4 linked regions of the Homo sapiens genome follow. The protein of the gene in region 1 interacts with the protein of each later gene in a pairwise test. Each region holds a gene or a part of one and is shown on either strand. Other genes may lie near its edges.

Region 1 (4,704 bases):
TTGCCTTATAATCATATTTCACTGTTAAAAACCCTCCAGGGCCTACAGTTGCATTTGAGTAAAATTTAAACTCCTTCTTCTGGTCTAAAATGCCCTCCATGGGGTGGCTGTGCCTACCTTTCTGACCCGAGGGTTGGCACTCTTCCTTCTCCATTTGGATTCAGCACAGTGGCCTTCTCTGTCAACTCCTTCTCAGCCACCCCCAGCTCATTCCTACCACAGGCCCTTTGCACTCACTGTCCTCTTTGCCAAGAATGTTCTTTTCTAGATCAATGTTTATCAGCTTCAATTACACATTAGGACCATCTGCATCCCAGGCTGCTTCCCAAACCAATTAATGTGGAAACTCTGGCGGTCAGACCCAGGCATCAGGTTATTTGGGGTTTGTTTGCTTGTTTGTTTTGAAGCTTCCCAGGTGATTCTCTGCACAGCCCACCTAAAGAACCAGGGCTTCCTGCGGTGGCTCCTCTCCAACGTTCAAATGTCATCTCCTCAGAGACAGCATGATCACTCTACTTTCACAACTAAAGATTTCATTTAAGAAATAGAGTTTAGAAAGAAAAGTATAAACAAAAGATGAGTACAAAATGGAATTGAGTTTGTAAAAATAAAGGTAAGTGTGGGACAGCATTGTTGAAAAGACAAAATAAAAAATAAAATAACCTGATTAAAGCATGGGCAAAGGACCTGAATAGACATCTTCCTAAAGAAGACATGAAAATGGCCAAAAGGTACGTGAAAAGGTGCTCATTATCACTAATCATCAGGGAAATGCAAATTAAAACCACAAAGAAATATCCTTTTACACCTATGAGGGTAACTACTATGAAAATGACAGGAGATAACAAGTGTTGGTGAGGGTGTAGAGAAAAGACAGTGCTTGTGCACTGTTGGTGGGAATGTAGATTCATGCAGCCATTATGGAAAACAGTATGGACATTCTTCAAAAAATTAAAAGTAGAACTACCATGCAATCCAGCAATCCCAGTTCTGGATATATACCTCCAAAAAATGAAACCACCATCTCAGAAGGCATCTGTGCCCACATGTTCGATGCAGCATTATTCACAATAGTAAAGACATGGAAACAACCAGTGTCTGCCAACAGATGAATGAAAAAATTGTCACACACACACACACACACACACACACACACACACACACACAATGGTATGTTATTAAGCCTTAAAAAATAATAAGATACTGCCATTTGTGACAACATGGATGACCTGGAAGACATTATGCTAACTGAAATAAGCCAGACACAGAAAGAGAAATACTGCATGATCTTATTTATTTGTGCAATCTAAAACATGTCAAATACATAGAAACAGAGAAGAATGGTGGTTTCCAGAGTGGGAAGGATCAGGAAATGGGGAGAGGTAGGTCAAAGGATACACAAACTTGCAATTATACAAGATGAACAGGTCTAGAGATTTCATGTACAGCATGGTGACTATAATTATATTGTACACTAAAAATTTGCTGAAAGTGTAGATTTTAGGTGCTCACCAGACACACATACACAAAGTACTATCGTGGTAATGGATATTTTAATTTGCTTGCCTGTAGTAATCATTTCACTATGTATATTTGTATCAAAACATCATGCTGTACACCTTAAATAAAAAAGAAAAGACAACATAGCAATTTCAAGGAAGACAGAATTTAACTTTCCATTTGCTCACTTGCAAAGTGTGATCTTGTACCCGTTACCTAACATGTCTGAGCCTCTATGAAAAGAGGATAATTGTGCTCACCTTGGAAAAATTTTCAAGGAATAAATGAAACCTGAAATGGCCCACAGTGAACACTAGGTAAATAGTATTTATTATTGTTAAATAGTAAATGATTGGTTGAAGTAGTAAGTGCTTTACAAAGTCAAAGAAAATAGAAATGTCAAGTGCCTGGGGTTGACAAAGAGCTTCTCTCAGTAGGCAGAATTTAATTTTTGTCTTAAAGTAAAGCTAGAATTTAGACAGAGTATGGTGAGGATTGCAAGTGCCATTGCAGGGGACTGAGAATAGAAGGAAAAAAGGTTAGAGGTAGAATTTTGCAGAATGTGTTTGGGGAAGAGGGAGTTAAAACAGGAGGAAAGAGAACACAATGTTTTCAGAATGGACAAACCTTCTGTTTTCTATCATATGGCATCTTTTTAGCACTGGCATTTACCTGCATTAAATTGTGTAGAAGAGTAAGTCTCTGATTGGAAGCAGATCTATCATGGGTAGAGGCAGACAGGTGGGGGTGGTAGAAGCCAGGCTTTGGAAGGCCACTCCCTTCAACTGGAACTAGTGTGGTCTCCTGGAGTCTGACTCTGGGGCATGAGTTAGCTTACCTCAAAGAAGCAAGCTTTGGTTTTCCAGGAACTGACCACAAACCAGTTCCAAGTAGCAGCACTTGGTGCTCTCATGGGGCAACCTAGCCATTCTCAAGGGCAGCCCAGTTCTGTGTGAGTCAGAGTCCTGGCAGGAAAGTGTGGCACACCCAATCAGGCAAACCAAAGAATGTCCAATGAAGGGACAATTAACAAACGGCAGGCAAGGTCAAGGAGAACCAACTTTGATAGAGATAGCAGAGTGGGGAGGGATGGAAGGGAGAGCTGTAGGAATCTTGAGAGGGGCTGCCTGACAGGAGCTGTAGCTTTCTTCAGAGGAACGTGGGCTGGGGAATAAATATCTCTGTCTCTCTCATCTGCCCTCTCTTGCAGGTGGCCACCCTCCCCACACTGGCTGGCCAAGCCCAAGCCAGAAGCCAGAAGGCAAAAGTGTCTATTTGTGCAGTCTTTACATCAATTTATCTCTCCTGGGGTACAGAGCTGAATCCAGAAGGGACAAGAGTAGATTTAGAATATGCAGCACAGCCAACGTCTCACAGAATGAGAAGCCACAGAAGGGGCTGATTACCAGGCTGCATCACCCTCAACAGACCCGTGTTTGTGGAGCCCCTCCGGACCTCTCTCTTTTACCCTTCCTCACATCCACCTCTTACACATCTAACTGATATCCAGTCAGGCCAACTGGACTTCTTAGTATCTCTCAAAAATATACTCTGCTCACACCATATCCCTAAACTCCAGAGGGATTGAAGATTTATGGTTTTGTTTCTTATACCTAAAAGTACTGGATGAAACCTTGCTGGATATTTATGAAAACTTGGAGTAAAGAGAGGACTTCTCAAAGCATGACCTCAGAGGCAAAACCACAGAGGAGAGGACTGAGAGTTTGTACTACATAAAAATCAGAAACTTCCATTTGACAAAACCCACCATGAACAAAGTTGAAAAGGCATCCAAAAAACCTCAAATAAAATTCAAACGATGAAATAAAAATATCATTTCAGCAAATGTAAGTAAAAGGGGTACTATCTAAACATATAAAGGTCTCATACAAATAGATAAGAACTGACCCAGGTTTGGGAAGGGGGAAGAGGGAGCTAAGAGGAAAACTAAACAAATAAGGAAAAGGCTGTGAAAATTAAAAATAGGCCCATAGGTGAAGGACATGAACAAGATTGATGAAAGAGAAATAACAACTTGATAATAGCATATGGAAAAACGTCTAGCTACTCAATCCAAGAAATGCAAGTTTAAACAAGAAACTCTCCAACCAAATTCACAAAGATTGCTTTTAATGAGAGCACTCAGTGCAGGCAGGAATGCAATAAAGGGACCCTCGTGATTGCTTAGATGAATATAAATTATTATAAACTTTTGAAAAGCAAATTGGAAGTCCAGTATTGAAAAACTTCAAATATTCATCCCCTTTGCCCCAACATTTTCACTTCCCAGAATCTATCCAAACACTCTGCTGCTCACAGGATGAAGTCCAGGCATCTCAATATGGCGTACACCTTTCAGGTTGCATCTCCCATGTCTCTCCAGCTGATATTTGCCACTCCATCAGTGCAAAACTGCCTGTCCTTCCCTAGACATACATCCTGCACTTCCATGCCTTTGAGCATTTCCTGCTCATTTTCTTCTGCTTGGAAAGCCCTTCACCATCTTCTTGGCTTAGCTAACTTTGCTTACTGTTCTGGAATCAGCCACATTATCAGAGGCCCTGATTCCCATCCAGGTTTAGTTAGTTTACCTTCTCCATGTTTCCATAGTACCCAGTACATATTTTTTGTGGACAATTCACACAGTATGTACATCTATGTTTACATATTCATGCATCTGATTACATACCTGTCTCTACCATCTTGGTTTTTCTCTGTATTCCCTACACTGGTGGTTTTTAGCTGGGAGCAATTCTGCTCCCCCAGGGGAACATTTCCAGACAATGTCTCAAAACATTTTTGGTTGTTACAGTTGGAGGCAGGAGGCGCTACTGGTACCTATCGTGTAGAAGCCAGGATGCTGCTAAATATCCTGTAACACACAGAGGAGGCCCCCACAACAAAGAATTATCTAGCCCCAGATTTCAACAGTGACGAGGCTGCTATATTCTTCCTAGCTTCTGCCTAGCCTGGAACATAAACACATACATCAATTTAAAAAATCCAGAAAATTATGTAATGAACAAGCATAAAATGGACTTTCGAAGCCTAATTTCTTCTTCCATACAATGGGCATTATAATAGCCATGCCAGAAGGTTGCAGGGAGGATTAAAAGAGACAACATACGAACAGTGCCTAGTACAAAGCTAGTATTCCATCAGTATTAGTTCATCCCAACAATAAAGAGCGTAAGTTAAATCACA
Region 2 (8,250 bases), on another chromosome or scaffold:
TTAATGCTCTTCCTTCAGTGTAAGCTTCCACACATGCTGGGGAAATCTCTCCATTGATACTGAATGGTCTCGGTGATATGTTCATAACACATCAGAGCCTTGCAGTAGGTAATATGCAAGGTGTGCTTTTTCAACACCTAATTTGTAACTGGGTGGAAATCTTTTTTTTTTTTTTTTTTTTTTTTGAGACAGAGTCTTGCCCTGTCACCCAGGCTGGAGTACAGTGATGCAGTCTTGGCCCACTGCCACCTCTGTCTCCCGGGTTCAAGTGATTCTCCTGCCTCAGCCTCCTGAGTAGCTGGGATTACAGGCACCCGCCACCACACCTGGCTAATTTTTGTATTTTTAGTAGAGATGGGGTTTCACCATATTGACCAGGCTGGTCTTGAACTCCTGACCTCATGATCCACCCGCCTCAGCCTCCCAAAGTGCTGGGATTACAGACGTGAGCCACTATGCCCGGCCTGAACTGAAATCTTGAATGTGTTCAGTAGGCATCTTCTTACCCAATCATTGGCTATTTCTGGTAACCTAAAATCTCCCGAGGAATTCTGACTGCGTCAAAAAACCATACTGAGGCTGGGTGTGGTAGCTCATGCCTGTAATCCCAGTGCTTTGGGAGGCCAAGGTGGGAGGATCACTTAAGCCCAGCAGTTAAAGACCAGCCTGGACAACATAGCAAGACCCCATCTCTACAAAAAAAATTTTAAAATTAGCATAGGGTGGTGGCGCACACCAGTACTCCTACCTCCTCAGGAGACTGAAGTGGGAGGATCACTTTAGCCGAGGGATTCAAGACTGCAATGAGCTATGATCTGCCACTGTACTCCAGCCTGGATGACAGAACAACATCCTGTCTCCAAAAAACAAAAATTAAAAAAAAATGTTAATAAAAGCTGTACTGGGATAACTGCATTATATGAACCACTGAAAATGTGACAAAAGCACAGCAGTGGAACCTGCTGTTTGTTCTTGCAGTCAAACCATACCTGTAGCTTTATTCTCTGTGGGTAAGAAAGATTAAAGAATCCTAGGAGTGCTAACATTGTAATTCAAAAAAAATTTAAAAGTCCTTGCTTTTTCATTTAGATTGCCATCTGAGAGCCTAAAAGTGCTTTGAAGGCTGTGTGGCAAATTCCTAAGTGGCAGTTCATTATAAAATCACCCTCAGGACATTTCTGCTTCCCTCAGATACTAATAATAATCTTACGCCTCCAGGTGGGAAGTTAACTCTAGGAATGAAGACCTCAACAAAAAGTTTTTGGCTGCTTGGTGGTAGAGAGACTTAAACAAAGGATTTCTCCAGCAAATTTGTGCGATCATACTACAGATGTGTCTTGTTTCTCCTGTACCTCTCCTTTTTGTCCCTCTTGACCACCACCAAGACTGTTAGACTGTGCCTCTTATCAACCCACTATGTATCAGTGTCCTCCTTCCATCCTGCTAGATGAGTAGGCAGATCTGGGCCTGCCTCTTTTCCTGAGACCTCCATCCTGAACAGCTGAGTCATTCCTTTCGCAAGGGTCTTTGCTTTATTTATTCTCTCTGCTCTCAAATGCTTTTCAAAAGCCTCTTCCCAGTTTCTTCTTTTGTTCTTCTGTGACCTATCTTTATTTTAGAGATGGGATCTTTGTCACCCAGGCTGCAGTGCAGTGGTGCAGTCACAGCTCACTGCAGCCTTGACCTCCCAGGCTCAAGCAGTCCTCCCTTCTCAGCCTCCTGAGTAGCTGGGACTACTGGCATGTGCCACCATACCTGACTTTAAAAAAATTTTTTTTTCTATAGAAACGAGGTCTCACCATGTTGCCCATGCTGGTCTTGAACTCTGGGGGGGGTCAAGTGATCCTCCCACCTCGACCTCCCAAAGTGCTGGGATTACAGGCTTTGAGCCACCACACCCGGCCTGAGACTTATCTTACTCCTGCCCTGCTACTGACCCTTTGCCTGTTTTTACTCTCTCTTTAGGTATGTAGGAAGCTTTAGAAATTTATACACCTGCTGTGAAATACCAAAGGTTAAGAACCCCCACAATAAAATGTAGATGAGAGATTCCCCCCCCCCACTTCCTTCTTATTACAGTCAGCCCATAGAGTGGGCCCCATGAATCACTAGGCGTAGGAACAGAATGGTTTATGTGGTTGGTTGAACTAATCTGAAACTCTTCAGTTCCTTTATATGCTGTCCTAAAGGTGAGCACTGAGAGGTGAGGAAGGGAGAGTCTGTACACTGGAGGAAGAGAAGTTGTTTCCTCTTTTATGTAAAACATTACTGCAGTTCTTCTCGGTGCAATTTGCAGAGCAACTCTGAGTCTACATAAATAAAAAGGGAAAGAGGTGGTTTTTCCAGCACATCTGAGGTCTGATCCCATCTATCCTTTCTTTGTAGGTCCTTGGAAGTTCCAGTAAAACATACACATGTTTGGCTTCTTGTCATTACTGTTCATGTCCTGCATTTGCATTCTCAGTGCTACGGAAGAGTGACAGCATCCTGGTGAGGATGGGGAAGACTCTTCCCACTGTAGTTGAATGTAGAGAGAAATTGCCCTTACTTTGTGGTTTAACTATTCTACAAAATGGGAATCTTATTATATGTTGAAACAAATGGTAGTTTTTTGTCTTTGTCTTCAGTTAGTCACCTCTTAGGGGTTTAGCCTCTCAAAATGCAATGTCATTTTTAGAACTGCATCAATTTCCTGAATTTTTATGTAAAAGATCATGAGTGAAGCTTTGAGAAGGAAAAAAAGGGAATCCCAGAAGTGGGCACTGGGGAATTAGATGGCCCCATAAAAATATGAACTAAATTCGATGTTGACAACTTTGCATATCCTACTTTCAGCCATGTGGTATATCTTTGCACTACCTGTGAGACAGCCTGACACCACACTTGACCTTCACATGGGGCATGAGTACCTTCACCTATTCCTTTAAGCCTTTGCCAATTTCATCAGAGTCCAGACCATGAAGCAGAAACAGGACATACTCACACACACCTTATTCCAAAGGAAAAAACACTACCTTCCTGAAAGCAGGCAGCTGTTTTCTAAGTCTTGCGAAAGAAGAAAATAATGATGTCCACTCCATTCTTTCCCTTTCTTTTACACTGTTAACTTCTTAAACATCTTGGGACCTGGCTGGCAAGTTGGGTATAGCATTGTCCAAGAGGCCACATTCGTAACTGATGTGCCCTAAGTGTATCTCAACTGCAAGAGACAGGATTGAACCAAAACCCCTTCAAGATCTAAAGCTGTGTTCTCTGACATCAGATTCAACGCAATCATCTCCCCAGAGGTGTGTACAGGCCAATATATGCAAGAGTTTTGCCACTACTCCCCGCCCCCCAACCCCAGAAGTATAACACAGTAGTTAAGAGAGTAGCCTAGACCAGCCGCCTCGTCCGGGAGGTGAGGGGCGCCTCTGCCCGGCCGCCCCTACTGGGAAGTGAGGAGCCCCTCTGCCCGGCCAGCCGCCCCGTCCGGGAGGGAGGTGGGGGGGTCAGCCCCCCGCCCGGCCAGCCGCCTCGTCCGGGAGATGAGGGGCACCTCTGCCCGGCTGCCCCTACTGGGAAGTGAGGAGCCCCTCTGCCCGGCCAGCCGCCCCGTCCGGGAGGGAGGTGGGGGGTTCAGCCCCCCGTCCGGGAGGGAGGTGGGGGGGTCAGCCCCCCGCCCGGCCAGCCGCCCCGTCCGGGAGGGAGGTGGGGGGGTCAGCCCCCCGTCCGGGAGGGAGGTGGGGGGGTCAGCCCCCCGCCCGGCCAGCCGCCCCATCCGGGAGGTGAGGGGCGCCTCTGCCCAGCCGCCCCTACTGGGAAGTGAGGAGCCCCTCTGCCCGGCCAGCCGCCCCATTCGGGAGGGAGGTGGGGGGGGTCAGTCCTCCGCCCAGCCAGCCGCCCCGTCCGGGAGGGAGGTGGGGGGGTCAGCCCCCCGCCTGGCCAGCCGCCTCGTCCGGGAGGTGAGGGGCGCCTCTGCCCGGCCACCCCTACTGGGAAGTGAGGAGCCCCTCTGCCCGGCCACCACCCCGTCTGGGAGGTGTACCCAACAGCTCATTGAGAGCGGGCCATGATGACAATGGCGGTTTTGTGGAATAGAAAGCAGGGAAAGGTAGGGAAAAGATTGAGAAATTGGATGGTTGCTGTGTCTGTGTGGAAAGAAGTAGACATGGGAGACTTTCCATTTTGTTCTGTACTAAGAAAAATTCTTCTGCCTTGGGATCCTGTTGATCTGTGACCTTACCCCCAACCCTGTGCTCTCTGAAACATGTGCTGTGTCCACTCAGGGTTAAATGGATTAAGGGCGGTGCAAGATGTGCTTTGATAAACAGATGCTTGAAGGCAGCATGCTCGTTAAGAGTCATCACCACTCCCTAATCTCAAGTACCCAGGGACACAAACACTGCGGAAGGCCGCAGGGTCCTCTGCCTAGGAAAACCAGAGACCTTTGTTCACTTGTTTATCTGCTGACCTTCCCTCCACTATTGTCCTATGACCCTGCCAAATCCCCCTCTGTGAGAAACACCCAAGAATGATCAATAAAAATAAATAAATAAATAAATAAAACAAAAATTAAAATTAAAATTAAAAAAAAAAAAAAGAGAGAGTAGCCTAGAGACTCTGATGAGCATGTGGTTACAATACCTGTCTTCCTAGGGAGCTGTCAGATTTCAGTGAGATAATCTATGAGAAGCACTTCACAGCCTAGTGCCTCAAGGAATGTTAACCATTGCTGTGACAGCTTTCTGAAGGCAAGGAAGAAATATAACTTAGGACTAACGTGAGGAGTGCAGGTAGTCTGGGTTTTCACCATGGGTTACATACCTTGTGCCTGATGGATCTAAGCCATTTCCCAAAGCAGCAGGCAAAGTAAGTCTGTGTCCACTCTGATTTCTAAAGAGAATACTCCTGTCTCATCATCTTTATCTGCAGTTTTTATTTATTTATTTTTTGAGACAGTCTGGCTCTGTCACCCAGGCTGTAGTGCAGTGGCGTGATCTCGGCTCACTGCAACCTCCACCTCCTGGGTTCAAGCGATTCTCATGGCTCAGCCTCCTGAGTAGCTGGAATTACAGGCATGTACCGCCACACCCAGCTAATTTTTGTATTTTTAGTGGAGACAGGGTTTTGCCATATCAGCCAGACTGGTCTCGAACTCCTGATCTCAAGTGATCCATCCGCCTCAGCCTCCCAAAGTGCTGGGATGACAGGTGTGAGCCACCATGCCCGGCCCATCTGCACTTTTTAGACAATCAGTTAGAGACCCCGTAATCTGTATGCTCTAGTCTTCTCCTGCCAAATAAGATGGTAATGAGAAATCTTGGTTAGACTGGCCAGCCCTGGCCCTGCCTGTTTCTAATAGGTGTGTGTGTTTTATATTCCAGTGCAAGCATCTCTTGGCAGTTTACCTGAGTCAGGTTATGAGGACCTGTCAGCAGCTAAGTGTCTCTGACAAGCAGTTGACTGACATATTATTGATGGAGAAGAAACAAGAAGCATAAAAGGTACAGATTGAGCATCATTCTTTCAAAATAGAATCCTGTCAAGAAATGCATTGAAAGCGTCATGATTCACATGGAAAAGAGGTGAAATGGATCTTCAGACACTTCATGTTACTGTCCCTTTTCCCTCCAGGACTGCAGGAGGTGCTGTGGGTTGGAGCCGTGGGCTGTGGAGGGTTTGTGTATGATGAGAAGCCCTGTACAGTCTTGTCAAGAAATACCCTGAGCCAGTCTCTGAGACGCTTCGGTAAAAAATGTCCCTGGATGGAATCAAGATTTTAAATTCAAATAAAGCCTAATATCATGTTGTGTCCACATTATTTAGTCTTTTTTTTTTTCTTTTGAGATGGAGTCTCACTTTGTCGCCCAGGCTGGGGTGCAGTGGCGTGATCTCAGCTCACTGCAAGCTCCGCCTCCCGGGTTCACGCCATTCTCCTGCCTCAGCCTCCCGAGTAGCTGGGACTACAGGTACCCGCCACCATGCCCGGCTAAATTTTTGTATTTTTTTTTTAGTAGAGATGGGGTTTCACCGTGTTAGCCAGGATGGTCTCCATCTCCTGACCTAGTGGTCTGCCCGCCTCGACCTCCCAAAGTGCTGGAATTACATGCATGAGCCACTGCGCCTGACCCTATTTAGTCTTAAGTAACTAACTGAATTACTAGTAATTTTTAAAAGGTTGGAATGGTGGGCCAAACAGTAAGATGAAGTTTCGACGAGTAGGTCAGTTCTTTTCCTTGGGTCCAGGAAACTATTGAGCAGCAACAGAAGATCAGAGCAGAGATGTGGCTAAACAGTAGCAGGTATGAAAAGACTTAGAGGTTCTGGTTTCTGTAAGCTTCAAATATCTGTGATGCTTGTGCCAAAACAGCTTAAGTAGACTGTATTGTTTGAGAGTTAGTATCGAGAACAAGGGAAGAACTGGTTTCACTCTGCACTTCTGATCTTTACAACAGGGCAATTGAAGGAACAGACTAAAAATCGTGTCCTGGAAGGAAACTACAGGTACTACCAGGGATTTTCAGTCTGAAGAAGAAAAGACAAAATAGATGACAGAAGGAGTATTAGAAGGGAGAGCGATGAGACTCAGTTGGACACCGAGAGAGCAAAGAAGCAATAATACGTGAAGATGAAAATGAAATCAATTTCAGCATAAGAAGACAAGAACTTATGGTAAAGCTGCCCACAGCCAGAAGAGGATCCTAGAAGGACAGGAATTCCCTGTCTGCAGCATTTCATAAGCATGTAATATTGTTGCAGGGATACTGCAGAAGGAGTTGAAGCAGTGGACAGACAGATGATATAGGTGATTTTACAGCCTAAGAAAGCCCTGTGCTTGTGCCCCCAAAACATGAGGTGCTAGTGAATGAATGCTGGGGGAAAGCCCAGGGCCTAGGTGTTGCAATGTTCTGTGGTTGGCAGATGCTTTTTGTTTTGTTAAAAAGTGCAACAGATAAAATTTATCAATACTTTTCTGCTACTCAGGAAACTTGGACTCAGCATAACTTACTTTTTTTCCAGCAGCCTTCAGGGTAAAGTTTAGAAGGTAGATGCAACAAGCCAATGCAGCACCCTAAGCTTGTCTTTTTAAGTTTTATTTTTATTTAACCTAATATACACAGAGTTAAATAATTTTACTTCATAAAATTTTCACACTTTGAGTTCCAAGAACTTAACCAAACTTGAAATTTGGAGAGAAGCAAAATTCCCTATCTATCTATCTAGCTCTAGAAGGCAGAATTTGGTAGAGGAGGGATCCCATTTCACCAGTTTCTTCCCCACGGGTAGTTTTCTGTATATGGAAAAGAATGGAGCTTAAAATTATGTGATGAAAATTTGACTTATGAGACTATCAATCAATCATTTCCCTAAATTAATACAGCAGTTTCTTGATTGAATACTTTATTTATATATATATATATATATATATATATATATATATATATATATTTTTTTTTTTTTTTTTTTTTTTTTTTTTTTTCTGAGACAGAGTCTCACTCTGTCACCCAGGCTGGAGTACAGTGATGCCATCTGGGCTCACTGCAGCCTCCGCCTCCCAAGTTCACATGATTCTCCTGCCTCAGTCTCCTGAGTAGCTGGCACATGCCACATACCCAGCTAATTTTTGTATTTTTTAGTAGGGACGGGGTTTCACTATATTGGACAGGCTGGTTTTGAACTCCTGACCTCGTGATCCGCCTGCCTTGGCCTCCCAAAGTGCTGGAATTACAGGTGTGAGCCACCATGCCCGGCCGAATAATTATACTTTTAATTTTTGAGGTCACCTTCCTGGCAACAAGTATACATTTTTAGTACAGTCAACTTTTATTTTTCCATTGCCTCTAAGTTAAAAAGTATTTGCATTATAATAGTTCACACTGTTTCACAGTAAAATAGTTTCAGTAATTTTCCACCATAAACAAGGCAGACTTTTAAAAACAAAAGAGTCTGTTAGAATCCATTCAAGCTGTTGGCATAATCCACACAGTAAAAGCAGCTGAATAGATCATAAATATATTTGTCAATCCTTGGAGCCTACTACTGACACATACATATTAGCTAGATACGTGGTAGCTCCAGGGAAGTGCTCAAGAGAGGCAGTCCATTTCCTTGTGAGGTGTAGCTATCTTTCACAATGAAAACCAGCCGTGTCCTCTTTGTTTCTTGTGGATTTGTATCTTCTCCTGGAAGAGGCGAGAGCCTAGATCATAGGCCCACACCGAGAGCAGGCTGTACCCCAGCCTGACCATTCCCACTCTTGACATCTGC
Region 3 (8,552 bases), on another chromosome or scaffold:
CACAGCAAAACCTTCTAAGGGTCTTTCTTGCCTCATAGTAAATCTGGTTTTTTGTTGTTTTTTGGGGGGCGGACAGTTTCACTCTTGTTGCCCAGACTGGAGTGCAATGGCACGATCTCGCTCACTGCAACCTCAGCCTCCTGGGTTTAAGCAATTCTTCTGCCTCAGCCTCACGAGTAGCTGGGACTACAGGCGACCGCCACCACGCCCAGCTAATTTTTTTGTATTTTTGCTAGAGACAGGTGTTTCACCATGTTGGCCAGGCTGGTCTCGAACTCCTGACATTAGATGATACACCCGCCTCGGCCTCCCAACATGCTGGGATTATAGGTTTGAGCTACTGTGTCTGGCCTGCCTCGTAGTAAATCGTGACTCACTGCCTCCTTCTTCCCACCTGTGTCCTTCTCGTGGATGGTTTGTCTCTGGCCCCGGCTTAGTCATCATTTTCTGGTTCCTTCTTAAGTTGGCTTGGACCCCGCTTGTGAGCCACCCAAGCACTCTACACAGCCTCACCTCACCCTCCATCCCTCATCCTCACCCTCCATCCCTCGTTACCTGCTTCTCATCTGTGATGCTCCCCTGATCTCTGCAACATTAGCAGTCCCTGAGACCGCGTAGGTACTCAGTGAATATTTGTTTAATCAATGGGCAAAGGAATAGTCCTAAATCATCAAAAATGAATTTTTGAGCAATGCGGCTACACATTGGAGAAGTAGTGTTTATTTTTTCACAGAAAATGCTTCGGGATAAAATAAAAGAATGTTCACCTGTAATCCCAGCATTTTTGGGAGGCGGAGGCAGGTAGATTACTTGAGGTCAGGAGTTCGAGACCAGCCTGACCAACATGGTGAAACCCTGACTCTACTAAAAACAAAAAACAAACAAAAAAAAAAAACAACAAAAATTAGCTGGGCATCATGGTGCATCCCTGTAATCCCAGCTACTCGGGAGGCTGAGGCAGGAGAATCACTTGAACTCGGTAGGCGCAGGTTGCAGTGAGCCAAGATTGTGCCACTGCACTCCAGCCTGGGAGACAGAGGGAGACTCAAAAAAAAAAAAAAAAAAAAGAAAAGAAAAGAAAAAAGAAAAAGAAAAGAATGTTCTCAGACACCACTTGAAATGTAGGCCTCTGCTAGAGAAATACACATGCTGTATTTGTTTGGTAGAGACTTTGTCCCAAGATCACTGCCCTCGCTGCCTCTGCCCTTGAGGCCTGACCATTTCTTTGGGATGACAGTAGTGTCAGCTGAAAATTGTATGATGTGATGTAGCTCAACAGAGCTACAAACAAGTGCTAATAATAGGGCCCAGAAGGAAAATCAACTGTCTAAAACACTTCAGTGGTTGACATTTGGGCTGTAACTTGAAAAATAAGCGAGATTCCGCCAGAAGGAGACATCCAAGTACAGGAAGCACATTTGAGGCCAGGGGACTCACATCCATTAGGACCTAAGTGCTCAGGCTCCAAAAGAATGCCGCCCTCGACTTCCAGAGCAGCGCAGCGTCTGGAGCTGGGGCACCTCTCCATTTCTTTGTATAGGACTGTCCACACTATGAACTGTGGACTTACCTGTCAACTGTGCAGTCTGGAGTGTAAAGTCTGTATTTTATTCAAGTGTAGACTCATCAACTCCCTCAATACCTTCAAAAATGCTCGGAAAGTGAGTGTGATTGGAAGGTAAGGATGTCTTAGGATAAGGCAGGAAAGGAAACACAGGGGGCTGGGCTGAAGACAGGCTGGGACTAGCGTGTGAAGGGTCTTCTTTCCACAGGAGAACTTGGACTTTATCCTCCTGGGCAGGCAACGGGGAGCCGGTGAAGGTCGCATTGCAGGAGGATGGTGATGAAGCTTTTTAAGGAAACATGTGCTGGCACTGTGAGTAATGGACTGTAGCAGAGACCAACCGCGACGCCACTGAATCAAACCAGGTGAGCAGTAACAACGGCAAAACCACTGGGGGGACGGGGAGAAGGAAAGAGTTTTTAGGTAGGATTGACAGAATTTGTAACCACTTGACATGGGAAATGAGGGAGTGTATCTGATCATGGTTTGAGAAATTTATACTAAAGTTTTAAAAAACTGATCTTGTCTAAGGAGAGATGCCATGAAAATGTATTTCATGTTATAACCTCACATCTCAAGGTGAAAATGGATGTTTCTTCTGAGACACAGGTTTGAAAAAAAGAAGATCATGAGGGAACAAAAAGCCCAGTTCTGATTGTTGGAAAGGATTACACAATACGAAGAGAAAGAAGAGATGGAATTCTTTTAGTTTTAGTTTTTTTCTTTTTCTTTTTTTGAGACAGGGTCTCGCTCTGTCACCCAGGCTGGAATGCGGTGGCACAATCACAGCTCACTGCAGCCTCAACCTCAAGCGATCCTCCCACCTCAGCCTCCTGAGTAGCTGGAACCACAGCCATGCACCACATGCCCGGCTACTTTTGTATAATTTTTTAAAGAAATGGGGCTTTGACATATTGCCCAGACTGGTCTTGAACTCTTGGCCTTGGGCGATCTGCCTGCCTTGGCCTCCTAAAGTGCTGGGATTACAGGCATGAGCCACTGAACCCATCCCATTACTTTCTTTTGTAATAGGTAAGACATAGATGTCTGCTGGAATGTAGACATAGACAAAAAAGATTGAAGTTTAACCTACCAGCCGGGAACGGTGGCTCACGCCTGTAATCCCAGCACTTAGGGAGGCTGAGGCAGGCGGATCACGAGGTCAGGAGATCAAGACCATTCTGGCTAACACGGTGAAACCCCATCTCTACTAAAAATACAAAAAATTAGCTGGGCGTGGTGGCATGCGGCTGTAGTCTCAGCTACTCCGGAGGCTGAGGCAGGAGAATCACTTGAACCCGGGAGACTGAGGTTGCAGTGAGCCGAGATTATGCCACGGCACTCCAGCCGGGGTGACAGAGGGAGAGTCAGTCTCAAAAAAAAAAAAAAGTTTAACCTACCAATTTTGGGGCAGAATTCCTAGACTTATACCACATCAATGGCCCTAGCAATGTTATGAACCAAGAGTAAGCTCCTGTAGGTTATCCGTGGAGGTAAAGGAACCAGGCACCTAAGCAAGGACACTATGGCCTACTGGTCAGGGCAGGTTGTCCAGGTAAGCAAGTTTTCTGAAATATGTACATGCTTTTAATATTAAAGGAAATGTGTCTTATGTCGTTAAATGTTCTTTAAAAACATTACTATGAATATAATTATTTAACTTGCAAATTCCCTTAAAGCTAGGATGCAACAAGGTTTCACAAAGAAGGCACCCAACCTTGATGTCAACAGTCTACCCACTATGGGAAGCCGGAGAGGCTTTCTTCCAAAATGCAGAATTGTCAGCATTTGAACGCTGAGTACGAAAAATTATAAGCACAGGCTGGGTACACCGGCTCCCATCTCTAATCCCAGATTTTGGGGGCCCGAGACAGCACTCTGAGCTCAGAGTGCAGACCTGCATAGAGCAAGACCCTGTATCAAAAAACAAAATTAAAAAAGCAGTTGTAAGCACAGGTACACGGTTAACCATGAATATGGTATCCCTGAAAAGCCGTTTTAATGGGGGAACAAACCTAAAATTTGGAATAATTGATAATATGTGTATATGTAGCCAATCAGAGCAGAAACCAGAAAATCAGGCAGCAAGCTTAAGGGAAACGCAACATACTTTGTTTGGTTTCCTTTTCTTCCATAAACTGATCAGGGGTAGGTAGAGTATGCTGCTATAGTTCGGAGTCGTCACCATCCTCACGGAAACGGCAGGAGTGTGAACACCTCCCTGAGCTACCAAGAGCATCTGACTCGTTGCAACGTGGGCCCGAACCCAGCGCCTCTAGGAAACGTGGGGCCGGGGCCTTTTGGTCCCGGGTGTGGGTTGGGGGTTTGGGGAAGGGCCGGGGCCTTGATCCCAGGTGTGGGGTTGGGGATTCCGGGGCTGAGCCGAGGCCTTGGTTAGGGGTGTGGGGCGGGGGTTCGGGGCAGTGCCGGGGCCTTGGTCCCGGGTGTGGGGTTGGGACTTCGGGGCCGGGACCTTCGTCTCAGGTGTGGGGCGGGAGTTCGGGACAGGGCTGGGGCCTGGGTCCCTGGTGGGGCGTTCGGGGCAGTGCCGGGGCCTTGGTCCCGGGTGTGGGGTGGGAGTTTGGGGCAGGGCCGGGGCCTGGGTCCCGGGTGGGGCGTTCGGGGCAGGGCCGGGGCCTTGGTCCCGGGTGTGGGGTGGGAGTTTGGGGCAGGGCCGGGGCCTGGGTCCCCGGTGGGGCCTTCGGGGCAGGGCCGGGGCCTTGGTCCCGGGTGTGGGGTGGGAGTTCTGGGCAGGGCCGGGGCCTTGGTCCCGGGTGTGGGGTGGGAGTTCTGGGCAGGGCCGGGGCCTTGGTCCCGGGGGTGGGGTGAGGGGTTCGGGGCAGGGCCGGGGCCTTGGTCCCGGGTGTGGGGTGGGAGTTCGGGGCAGGGCCGGGGCCTGGGTCCCGGGTGTGGGGTGAGGTGTTCCGGGCAGGGCCGGGACCTTGATCCCAGCTGTGGGGTGGGAGTTCGGGGAAGGGCCAGGGCGTGTCCTGGGTGGCCAGGGTCGGGGCCTGGGTCCTGGGGGTGGGATGAGGGGTTCGGGGCAGGGCCGGGGCCTTGGTCCAGGGTCTGGGGACAGGCTAGGGCCGGGGTCGCCATCCGTCCTGGGCGGCGGGCAGGGGTCTTTAAGGGGCGCACGCGGTGGCGGAGGACCAGGGCCCAGCCCTCCGGAAGTCAGGGCCCACACGGCCCCCCAGCGTCAGGCGCTCCGGTCGCGCCGGGGACGGCGGGCGGGGCGGGCGGGGCGGGCGGGGCGGACGTGCGGCGTGCGCGGGGCGGGGCGATGTGCGCGCACGCGCCAATCGCAAGGCCGCGAGCAGGGTGTACGCGCGGAGAGGCCAAGAAGGCGGCGGGGCGGGCCGAGCGTCGGGTGCGCCCAATCAGCGCGCCGCAACACCATGACGTGAGGCTCTCCCGGGGCTGAGCGCCAGTCCGCGGGACCGGCGGGTGAGTGCGCGAGTTCAGGGCGCGAGGCGCGGGTCCGCGCGGGGGCGGGACTTCCGCAGGGCCCCGGAAGTGGGAGCTGTGTGTTCTCATGCGAACGGGAAGGAGCGTTGGGGATCTGGAGTCCCGGGGTTGAGACATTTTCGGGCCCGAAAGGGGAAGAATCCGCCGCCGCCGCCGCCGCCAGCTCGCGCCCGCCCTCTCCCCTACCTCCGGCCCGGCCCGGCCCGGCCGCGCCGCCTCTCCCTGCCGTCTCTCTCCTCGCCGTCCCCGCGTGTGGCGCGGCCGCCGGGCCCCGGGGTTGAGGCGAGGAGCCCGCGGGCGGCCGGTCGGGCGGGGCGGCGGCGCTGACAGGTGAGGCACCCTGGGCCGCGGCGGGCCGTCCCTCCCGGCCCAGCTCGGACCCGCGCCGCGCCGCCTGTCACTGCGCCGCCATCTTCCCGGAGGACGCGGCCGCGGCGGGCAGGGCCGGGCCTGGGCCGGGGCCGGGGCCGGGGCAGGGGAAGGCCGGGGCCGGGTTGAGGAGGACCGGGGCTAGGGCACGGGAAGGGCCAGGGCTGAGGAGGACCGGGGTCAGGGCCAGGAAAAAGCCGGGGCTGAGGAGGACCGGGGCCGGGGCAGGGGAAAACTGGGGCTGAGGATGGCCGAGGCCGGGGCAGGGGAAGGCCGGGGCCGGGGCTTAGGAGGACCCGTTGAGGCGAGGCGGGAGTCGACGGAGCTGGGTGCCCGGAAGACCGGGCCGGGGTCAGGGTCGGGAGGCCGGGGTTGGGCGAAGGCCGGCGAGGACGGGGGTCGGGCAGGGCCTGGGCGGGGCCGGGGTCGCGGGCCGCGAGCGCCCCCAGGCCGGGCGGGCGCCGGCACCCGCAGTGCGGCGCCAGCCTTGCCACTCGCTCCTCGGTCCCGCCGGAGCCCGGATAGGCGGCCGTGCGGGTGCGGGGCGGGACGGGTCATCAGGGCATCGCATTCCTTTAGAACCAGGAAGTTGGGATCCTGTTGCTCGGTGTGTGTTTGGAACGCTCCTGTTTTCCTGTTGATAGACTTGAGCAGAGGTGGATCTGAAGGAGTTAAAAAAATAAAGTCAGATGTGAAGATTGCCTGTGTTGGTCTTGGGGCTGGGATACATGGGCGGCAGAGAAGCCATCGGAAAGCTGCTGCACCTGCCTCTCAGGGTGCGCTTGGGAACGTGAAGAGTCTTTCCGTTTCAGTGCCGTTGTGCGTCGAAACTTCATGCGAATGTAATTTTGCTTTTCCCCTTATTTTTACGTAAAACGTTCTTAAAACTTGGCTGAGATGAAACTTGAGAAACCTAGCTGTAGAAAACTACCTCCTATCTGGCTTTCGTTTGAGATTCTCTAAGTGGATGCCCAATAACTTGTCTTAATAGTAAATTGGAAGTTTGAAGTTTTGGATAACTGAGAAAACAGGAAGGTTTTCCTTGACAGGGCAGTGGAGTTTGTAAGTATAAACAGTATGCGTGAGGCCTTTTTCTAGAGATGAGAGCAACTCCAAGGTGAACATTGAAGGGGACAGACAAGTTATTTTCCCTTTCGAAAGTTTTTTTCTCTTAGTTTCAGTTGTTTGAATATTTAAATGCACTTGAAATAGGTGCTGAGTTGTAGTTTGTGAAGACCACAGTGGGGAAGAGTGGTGTCCTCTTTTTTCTTGGTGGTCAGGTGGTGTGTGCAGTGTGCAATTTCCATACTTCCCCAACCTGCCTGGCGCCCCTCATTACAGTCAGGGTAATTTACAGAAGTTGAAATCGTTGTGGCTTTTCAGTTTTTTCTCCTTGTATTTAATATGCTGAAAGGCAGTTTTGTAATCAAACCATATAAGAAATAGCTTAATTGAGGTTTGCTAAGTGAAATGCGTTCCGAAAGGCATCAGATTAACAAGCTTATTATTTAATCATAAATTTAATTTGTGTACTTATCTTTGAAACTTGCATTGGTTAGAAATAAATTTTATCCGGTATTTTGAAAAGTTAATGTGAGTTGAGTTGACTTATTTATATGAAACAAAGGCATGGCTTATTCATTAGAAGTTACCCTCGTGTTGCCTACATTTTCTCAATTGTAACAGGGGGATGATGATAATCTCATTTTCTTAGGACTGTTGTAACACAAACATGGAAATGTTGTCTGGTTTTGCTATTTTCACTATTACTGATTTTTTTCTTCCCCCCCCGAGTTGGAGTCTTGTTCTGTCACCCAGGATGGAGTGCAGTGACACGATCTCAACTCACTACAACCTCCACCTCCTAGGTCTTCAAGTTATTCTCCTGCCTCAGCCCCCCGAGTAGCTGGGATTTACAGGCACATGCCACCACACCTGGCTAATTTTTGTATTTTTAGTAGAGACGGGGTTTCAGCATGTTGCCCAGGCTGGTCTCGAACTCCTGGCCTCAAGTGATCCACCTGCCTTGGCCTCTCAAAGTGTTGGGATTACAGGAGTGAGCCACTGCGCCCAGCTTACTGAATTTTTAAAATATTCTACCTTGTAGCTGTCAATCTATTAGCAGAAAGTTTTGTTTTTGTTTTTGTTTTTTTGTTTTGTTTTTTTTGGCTTGTTTACACATGTATCTGGGCAGAGAAAACAGCTTCTGAGCACAGAATGCATATTTGGAGAAAGCAGTTCCACTCTTTTTGAGTAGGAACCAGACAGAAAAAAAGATAACATGGGTACTATTCTGTAGAAGAGTAGCTGAAATTAAGTGGCAGCAAATTCAGGGAGAAATGTAATTTGGTTTAATGTTCGGGAAGATTGCCATTTTTAAAAGTGAGATTTAAAGAATTTATTGAATTTAATGCAATTTCCATAAGTAAGCACAAGTTTTGACAAGTATATATTTAAGGTGTTTTTATGAAGCAGTCTTCACATTATCTTAAAATGTAGTTCTAAAATACGTGCAGGCTGGGTGAGGTGGCTCATTCCTGTAATCCCAGCACTTTGGGAGGCCTAGGTGAGTTTAGGAGCCCAGGAGTTCACCAGCCTGGGCAACATAGAGAGACCTCATCTCTACCAAAAAATCAAAAAATTAGCCAGGCATGGTGGCTCACACCTGTAGTCCAGCTGTTGGAGAAGCTGAAGTGGGAAGATCGCTTGAGCTTGGGAGGTTGAGGCTGCAGTGAGCCATGATCCTGCCACTGCACTCCATCCTGGACAACAGTGAGACCTTGTCTCCCCCCACCCCCAAAACATGCAAATTGGGACATCAAATTGTTAATGGTGTTTACAATGAACAGTGCCTTCAGGTAGCTGCAGCTACTCTACATAGATTTGCAAGTTTTTGTAGTGATAGGCTATGGTAGATGTTACCAGCCAAGGAGTGGCTGACAAACTCCTTTCACTGTTATTTCATTGTCATGTTAAAATTCATATTTTCCGTCAAAATAGTGATAGCTAGGATTATAATCTAGGTCTTCTAATCTTAGTAACGTGTTGTCTATGTTAGGGCCTCTCAAAGTTGTAAAAAAGCTGTATAGATGTGTTACCATCAATCGATTTCATTTGTTTTTATCCTAGTGTTAAAGGTACAAGTTTTTTT
Region 4 (7,800 bases), on another chromosome or scaffold:
TGCTGTGCTGGCTTCCCATGACCACCTCCTCTTGCTGAAATATTACTGCTTGAATCTGGAGCAGATTGCGGGTTTATAAAACTGCTTTTTATCTGAGAACAAACGGGTTTGGAAATTAGTCGTCTTTTTTCCCCACTCCCAGAGCTGCTCAAGTCATTCCACCGGCCCCCTCGGCTTGGGACAGGGTAGTGTAACTCCCGATCCCAGGGCCTAGCCCTGACACAGGTGGCTTCCCGTATCCCGGTGGGAAAACGCCCTGCCACCAGCGGGCTTGAGCTGGCCTGTGTCCCTCCACCGCCTGCACCACCCACCTCCAGAGTGCAGTGCTGGGCAAGGGCAGCTCAAGAGGACAGGACCAGGCGCTTGGCAAGACATCAGACACACCCAACCCAAAGGCGTGGACCCCAGGCCCGGCCCGTGGTACCCAGCAGGTGGCACTGCAGCTCCCCGCTCCTGCAGGTCCAGCGTCCTCACAGGAACACCAGGGCCTGTGCTCCGGAGCCTTCCTTCAGACCCTTCCTCCACGTGCCCACTTGGGATGCAGAATGCAGCGGAGCTAGGACCCCCTCCACGGCCTGGACCTCGGCTGCAGTAAAGTTACGTGAGGCCTGTCTCTCGGGGCCTGGAAGTGGCAGCCATCAGTTGCTCTTGCTGACCCCTCGGAGCAAGCGCCGCACAGGTGGTGGCTGAGACAGCTGGCGCGGGGGGCCCCAAGCTGCGCCGGCCTCCAGCCCACCCACAGCTGTTGCTGAAGTCAGGCCTCCCTCCCCAGCACTGGTATCTGAGTAACGGCTAAGAACCTCCTTCCTCTGGTTTTGAAAAGCAGTTCGGGTTGTCCAATTCTGTAACATTCATCTCCATTTTTTAAAAAGGTTTCTCTGACGGCCCCACGGCCCGAGCCGCGGTGAGCGTCGTGTTGCATGAGCCTGGGCCCCGGGCTTCCCGTGCGCCTCTGCCGCAGGTGCTTCTGGGCACCCATCCTCTGCGTTTCATTTGCAGTCGACTGTACAGAAGGCACTCACCACAATAAACCTTTCCTGAAAGCAGAGGCTGGCGCTCTTCCGTGTATTGTGTGTTCATCTTCAGGAGGGAGGGAACCCCTTCCCCAGAGGCCTCCTCCCCATCCTTCACTCCTCACTCAACCACAAGGCTTCACGTGAAGCTGGGGTTCCATTTTCTACATTAAACAACATTGCCTGAGAAATAAATAGACCCCAAGTTAGGAAATCAGGCTAGAACTTTTTTCTTTAATTCACTAAAGCTATAAATTAGACAAAATAGGAAGTCAGTTTTTTTTTTCAGACTGAGTCTCGCTCTGTCACCCAGTGACAATACTAGAGGGCAGTGGTGTGATCTCGGCTCACTGCAACCTCCACCTCCCGGGTTCAGCTGATCCTCCTGTCTCAGCCTCCCAGGTAGCTGGGACTACAGGTGTGTGCCACCACGCCTGGCTAATTTGTGTCTTTTTTAGTAGACATGGGATTTCACCATGTTGGCCAGGCTGGTCTTGAACTCCTGACCTCAAGTGATCTCCCCACCTCGGCCTCTCAAAGTGCTGGGATTACAGGCATGAGCCACTGCGCCCGGCCACGGAAGTCAGTCTTCTTAGAAGGAATCACGGCACTAGAGAAAATGATGATGGGAGCGACACCGTATAGAAAGACACTTTATTACACTGCCCACTCACACCAGGCCGGGACAGGAGTCACTCCTTAGAACCCCGAGCGGCTGTCCAGGCTGATGGAGGAGGGGACCACTCACCCGCCACAGAGCCAGCCCCCTCACATGGCTTCCTCCCTGAGGAGCATCTCCCACACTGGGGCTTCCAACGATCTTTGCTCTGCGTGTGCTGAAAGGACAGCGTCCAGAATCAGCCTCAGCCTGGACTTCTGTTACCATGGGAGGATAAGCTTGTCATGCTCACAGATGTGCACTCCTAGTGCCACGCCTCTAAACGTCCCCCAGACGGCATTGGGGCTCTCGCCGGGGAGCTTGGCTACTGTCTCGATCCCCGGCCAAGCAGGCCTCATGGCCAACTTTCTCAGTGTCCACAGCAGACAAAAATGTCCACAGCCAGAGCTCCAAAGCTCTGCCGGCCCTGGTGCCACTGCCACCTCTGCGTCCGGAGCCTGTGGGGCTCAGCTCTGCTGCTCTGGCCCAAGTCTGGCCTGGAGTCCCTGGTGCCCTTTGCAAGCACGGAGGCGGCTGGACATCCTTCGCATCACCAGCCTCTGGGCCTGCAAGCGCTTCCGGAGCTTTTCATTTTCCTTCAGAGTGAGGAAGAGTTTTTTCTTCAGGGAATCTAAGTCCAAAAGGGCATAGCTGTGATCAGATGGCTGCTTGTTGGGGGTCCTTCTCAGGCCTGCAGGGCCAGTCGGCCGGCCAACAGCCTCTGTTGCTTGCGGCCTCCGTGGCGAGACCTGAGGACAGGGGAGTGAGAGCCTAGAGCTGCATCACCAGCAGGAAGGCGGGCCATGGTGAGCAGGCCACCAGACACGCACACAGCACAACCCCAGGGCAGCTAGACACTCCGGGCTGCTCCCCCAAAATCCAGATGTGCCCACACCATGGTGGAGAATTTGACTGGGGAGCTCTGAAACCCAGGCTGCACACCCTGCCTCGGCCACACAGGTCTCATGGTGGGTGCTCACTGGTTTCCATTTTGTTTGGAGCAAGTCATCTTGTGTCCAACCACAGACCACCTTTGCACTCAGTCTTACCTGTTTTACGTGGCCTTCGGCATTTGGGGGCAACTGAAGCTCTTCAAGTGCAGTGTCCATGTTTCTCCCAGGACTGTCCTCTCCGGCCCCCGCCTCAGGGAGGACCTGGGAACGGCAGGGTGAAGTCTGCACTACAGCCCTGCACATGCAGGGCCCTCCTGCAGCTGCTACTTGTCCCTCTAGGGGAGTGGCAACAGCCAGGGACCAGCTCCAGGGTCTGTGCCCCTCCACAGCCAGCTTCTCCCTAGCACACACCCTGGAACTGAACTTTTTTTTTTTTTTGAGACAGTCTCGCTCTGTCACTTAGGCTGGAGTGCAGTGGTGCAATCTCGGCTCACTGCAACCTCCACCCCCAGGGTTCAGGTGATTCTCGTGCCTCAGCCTCCTGAGTAGCTAGAATTACAAGCATGTGCCACCACGCCTGGCTAAATTTTTTTTTTTTTTTTTTTGAGACGGAATCTAACTCTGTCACCCAGGCTGGAGTGCAGTGGCATGATCTCGGCTCACTGCAACCTCTGCCTCCCGGGTTCAACCAATTCTGCCTCAGCCTCCTGAGTAGCTGGGACTACAGGCACATGCCACTACACCTGGCTAATTTTTTTTTTTCTTGAGATGGAGTTTCACTCTTTCACCCAGGCTGGAGTGAAGTGGTGCGATCTCAGCTCACTGCAACCTCCGCCCCCTGGGTTCAAGTGATTCTCCTCCAGAGTAGCTGGGATTATAGGCATCCACCACCATGCCCAGCTAAATTTTTGTATTTTTAGTAGAGACGGGGTTTCGCCAGGCTGGTCTCGAACTCCTGACCTCAGGCAATCCACCTGCCGCAGCCTGCCAAAGTGCTAGGATTACAGGTGTGAGCCACCAGGCCCAGCCGAATTTTTGTATTTTTAGTAGAGATGGAGTTTCACCATGTTGGCCAGGCTGGTTTCGAACTCCTAACCTCAGGTGATCCGCCTGCCTCGGCCTCCCAAAGTGCTGGGAATACAGACGCAAGCCACTGCGCCCAGCCCGGCTAATTTTTATATTTTTAGTAGAGATGGGGTTTTTACTATGTTGGCCAGGCTGGTCTCAAACTCCTAGCCTCAAGACATCCACCCGCCTCAGCCTCCCAAACTGCTGGGATTATAAGCGTGAGCCACCTCGCCCGGCCCTGGAACTGAACTTTAAGAAATCAGGCACGGCCAGGTGCGGTGGCTCCCGCCTATAATTCCAGCACTTTGTGGGGCCAAGGCAGGAGAATCCCCTGAATCCAAGAGTTTGAGACCAGACTGGGCAAGATAGCAAGACCCCCATTTCTAAAAAAAAAAAAAAAAAAAATTTTTAATTAGCTGGGCATGGTAGCACATGCTTGTGGTCCCAGCCACTTGGGAGGCTCAGGTGGGAGGATGGCTTGATCCTGGGAGGTTGAGGCTGCTGCGAGCCATGACTGCACCACTGTACAGAGCCTGAGCAACAGAGTGAGACCCTGTCTCAAAAACAAAGAAAAAGGTTGGGTGCAGTGACTCACATCTATACTCCCAGCACTTTGGGAGACTGAGGTGGGAGGATGGCTTGAGCCCGGTAGTTTGAGACCAGCCTGAGTAAAATAGCAAGATGCTATCTCTACAAAAAAAAAAAAGTGGGGGCCCAGGCGCGGTGGCTCACACCTATAATCCCAGCACTTTGTGAGGCAGAGGTGGGTGGATCACCTGAGGTCAGGAGTTCGAGACCAGCCTGGCCAACGTGGTAAAACCCCGTCTCTATTTCAAAACACAAAAATTAGCCGGGCGTGGTAGCGGGCATCTGTAATCCCAGCTACTCGGGAGGCTGAGGCAAGAGAATCACTTGAACCTGGAAGAGGTTGCAGTGCGCCGAGATCATGCCACTGCACTCCAGACTGGGTGACAGAGCGAGACTCAGTCTCAAAAAAAAGAAAAGAAAAAGGGAATCAGGCACGATCCCTACTAGCAACTGAGATTCTTTGATATTGAAAAGAAGGAAGCTGAGAGGCTTGGGCCTTCCCTCCAGAAAAACCGGGAATCCAAACTGGCATATGAGGAAAGGCGACAGCCCTGCGGGCCGGCCTTGCTGGGAAAATCCCACCTCCCTGTCTCAACCCACAGCATAATTTAAACATTCAAGTACCTGGCCCGGTGCACTCACCTTTTCTTTCTGAGAAGAGCTGGCATTTCCTCTCTCACTGGCAGGGTCTGTGTTCTCCCTCACCTGCTACAAGAGACACACACAGAGTGGATGCAGACCCCAAGAACCCTCAGAGCTCGGGGCAGGCCTCGGGCATCATGCTTGTCCCCGCTGCTCGGCCCACTGCATGCCCCAGTCAACGAACAGCTGCTAAATGAAACTGACCTGAAGCTCAGCCCAACTCACACTGCCCGCTTGGTGCGCTTCTCTTTCTCCAAAGATGTCCTCAAATCATGGTCAGAGTGCCCTGAATAGGTCCCTGTAGAGCTAGGGACCCATCTACTTCCTATGTGTCACCCCAGGGCCTGGCACCTGGCCCCATGACCGCCAGCAAGCAGCAGAAGCGCAGCTCACCACTCGAGGTGCCACTGACCCAGAACCTGCAGCCCCTGGGCCACACTGGGGTGGGGCCCACAAAGCAGAGCTGGCAGAGGCCGTACCCAGCTTCTCCCCACCAACCAGGCACTGGAAGCACCGAGGGCTACAGTGACAAACGTCCCCACTCCCAGTGGCTCAAGTGTCATCTTTCCAGGACAAACGTTATCACAAATACGTGAAGGTGATTAAAGTGTTCATCTATGGACACATACCCCGAGCACCTGGGCTGTGCCAGGCAGCGTCCTGGGTGTGGGGCCTGAAGCAGGGAAGGCAGCCCCTGCCCTCATGGAGATTCTGTTCCAGGGGAGAAGACAAAACCAATGAGGGAAACAGGAAGGACAGCAGGGGCCACAGGGGCCAGGAAGACTGAGGGGCAGGAAGGGGTCGGAGGCAAGAGGGGGTTTGAGGGTCCAGAAGGGCTTCCTGAAGGAAGGGACTGCCAACCTGAAGAGGTTCAGGCAGACTGCATGAGGCTATCTGGGAAGGGTGCTGGGGAGGACAGATGGGGCAGGGGCTCCCAGGCGGCCGCTCTGGGCGTGTTTGCTACGTGGCCGCTTTGTTCTTCCCATCGGCTCCACTCTCCACTCACGGATCCCTTTCCTCTCCCCATAAATCCACCAATGCAGGGAGCTGCTGGCCTGTGGCTTGTCCCGCCACTGCCCTGCCTGCCCACTCCACGTGGGTGCCCCTGTGGCCTATCATGCGATCTCAAGGCTTCAGCATCCAACTCTTTGTGAGCCCTCTCCTGAGCCAGGCCCACACATCCCACCTCCACCAAGGCAAGCTTGGCTCACTGCAACCTCTGCCTCCCGGTTCAAGAGATTCTCCTGCTTCAGCCTCCCAAGTAGCTGGGATTACAGGTGCCCACCAACACACCCAGCTGATTTTTGTATTTTTAGTAGAAATGGGGTTTCAACATGTTGGCTGGGCTGGTATCGAATTCCTGACCTCAGGTGATCCACCCACCTCTGCCTCCCAAAGTGCTGGGATTACAGACGTGAGCCACCGCACCCAGCCATAGAATAATTCATTTTTAAAATGCCTTTAATTTATGACTTCTCTTAAAGCCGAGGTCATGGCCAGCAGGGCCACAGGGCTGTGGACCCCAGAGGCGTGACAGTGCTGTTGTCACTGGAGTTCTTGGCCTTGGCTTTTCCCACACATGCCGCCACCCCCACTGCCCCCAGCTGCTGGTAAACAACGCAGGCTGGATGTGACCAGACGGAAGGTGCAGTGCCCTCCTACCTGTGTGGGGTCCTGAAAGGCGAACACCGTGGGCACGGCATTGTGCTTTAGGTTCTTGCGGTTTCCAAAGGCGCTGAAGCACTCTGGCCGGAAGTGCTCGGAGCAGATGACCGTGTGCTGCTTGGGCTTGAAGTTGCCCCGGCCGATGTTCAGCACCCATTCCTTCAGCAGCTCCGGGCGGCTGAACGGAAACCTAAGGGCAGAGGCACGGGGTGTGAGGCCCAGCAAGGCTGGACCCAGCGCCTCAGAGTCATTCGGAATTTTCACATCACTACAGAGTACTTCCCTGGACAGCTGTGGACATTCAGTCCTCTCGGTTTATTAAATCACATCTAATTTCTGGAAGCTTCTGTCACAGCTGTTAAAGCACTCTTAATAGGAAACCCGAGACCACGAGCATGGCCAGAGAGCCCAAGTGAGCTGCTTCCGATGCTACATTTGCCAGGAGCCTACCAGGAGCCGGGCCCTGTTCTTCGTGCTAGGGATGGGGGGTAATGAGACAGTCCTGGCCCCCAAGAGCTGATATTCTGGAGCGGGGGCACAGTGATGAGCCACACAGATGTGGACGGTGTCTTCTGGGGATGACAGCTGCTCCAGAGAACAGACAGAGGGAAGCCCTGGGGTGGTGAGGAGAGGCAGCTGAAGGGGTGATGTTTGAGCACAGACCGCAGGAAGTGGCAGCACAAGCGACGCAGGCTTCAGAAGGGACAGCAGGAACGGCCACTCACGCAGGTCCAGCTGAGACAGCGAGAGGGAGTGGGGACTGCATGACGCAGGGCCCTGAGCAGCTGGGGAGTCCCTGGAGGCTCTAGACAGAGGTGAGATGGAACCTGGGTCCACCCTGGCTGCTGTGGGACCAGGCATTGGCAGGAAGTGGTAATGAGAGGGCAGACTTGGATGTATTTTGAAAGCCATGCAGTAAGGTTTGCCTGTAGATGGTAAAATTGAGAAGGAAGGAGTTTCATGTTGGAGATAAAATTAAGTTACAGGACGGCAGGTTAAGGGGATCAGAAGTTTGTTTTGTAGCAGCTGAGCATGGTGGCTCACGCCTGTAATCCCAGCACTTTGGGAGGCCAAGGCAGACAGACTGCCTCAACTCAGGAGTTCAAGACCAGCCTGGCCAACATGGTGAAACCCCATCTCTACTAAAGATGCAAAAATTAGCCCAGCGTGGTGGCGCACTCCTGTGATCCCAGCTACTTGGGAGGCTGAGGCACAAGAATCACCTGAACCAGGGAGGCAGAGGCTGCAGTGAGCCGAGACTGCGCCACTGCAC

What was found.
Region 2: the proteins of UQCRB (region 1) and ZSWIM7 interact in binary tests that used the Homo sapiens proteins (3 or more experiments, as listed by UniProt).
Region 3: the proteins of UQCRB (region 1) and LARP4B interact in binary tests that used the Homo sapiens proteins (3 or more experiments, as listed by UniProt).
Region 4: the proteins of UQCRB (region 1) and THAP3 interact in binary tests that used the Homo sapiens proteins (3 or more experiments, as listed by UniProt).

The regions. Positions count from the first base shown.
Region 1 is NC_000008.11:96,221,670-96,226,373, forward strand, and holds the end of UQCRB (cytochrome b-c1 complex subunit 7), read right to left. Parts: 3' UTR 1,278-4,704; downstream 1-1,277. UniProt on the Homo sapiens protein: Component of the ubiquinol-cytochrome c oxidoreductase, a multisubunit transmembrane complex that is part of the mitochondrial electron transport chain which drives oxidative phosphorylation.
Region 2 is NC_000017.11:15,975,280-15,983,529, reverse strand, and holds the end of ZSWIM7 (zinc finger SWIM domain-containing protein 7), read left to right. Parts: intron 1-2,385; coding exon 2,386-2,490; intron 2,491-5,366; coding exon 5,367-5,483; 3' UTR 5,484-6,970; downstream 6,971-8,250. Other genes in the region: ADORA2B (adenosine receptor A2b), read right to left, coding at 8,188-8,250. UniProt on the Homo sapiens protein: Involved in early stages of the homologous recombination repair (HRR) pathway of double-stranded DNA breaks arising during DNA replication or induced by DNA-damaging agents. Required for meiotic progression, hence for fertility.
Region 3 is NC_000010.11:928,238-936,789, reverse strand, and holds the start of LARP4B (la-related protein 4B), read left to right. Parts: upstream 1-5,084; 5' UTR 5,085-5,362; intron 5,363-8,125; exon of another isoform or gene 8,126-8,552. Other genes in the region: keratinocyte proline-rich protein-like, read right to left, coding at 3,959-4,663. UniProt on the Homo sapiens protein: Stimulates mRNA translation.
Region 4 is NC_000001.11:6,627,416-6,635,215, reverse strand, and holds the end of THAP3 (THAP domain-containing protein 3), read right to left. Parts: intron 6,718-7,800; coding exon 6,525-6,717; intron 5,574-6,524; coding exon of another isoform or gene 5,492-5,573; intron 4,929-5,491; coding exon 4,863-4,928; intron 2,847-4,862; coding exon of another isoform or gene 2,826-2,846; coding exon 2,721-2,825; intron 2,421-2,720; coding exon 2,139-2,420; 3' UTR 1,654-2,138; downstream 1-1,653. UniProt on the Homo sapiens protein: Component of a THAP1/THAP3-HCFC1-OGT complex that is required for the regulation of the transcriptional activity of RRM1.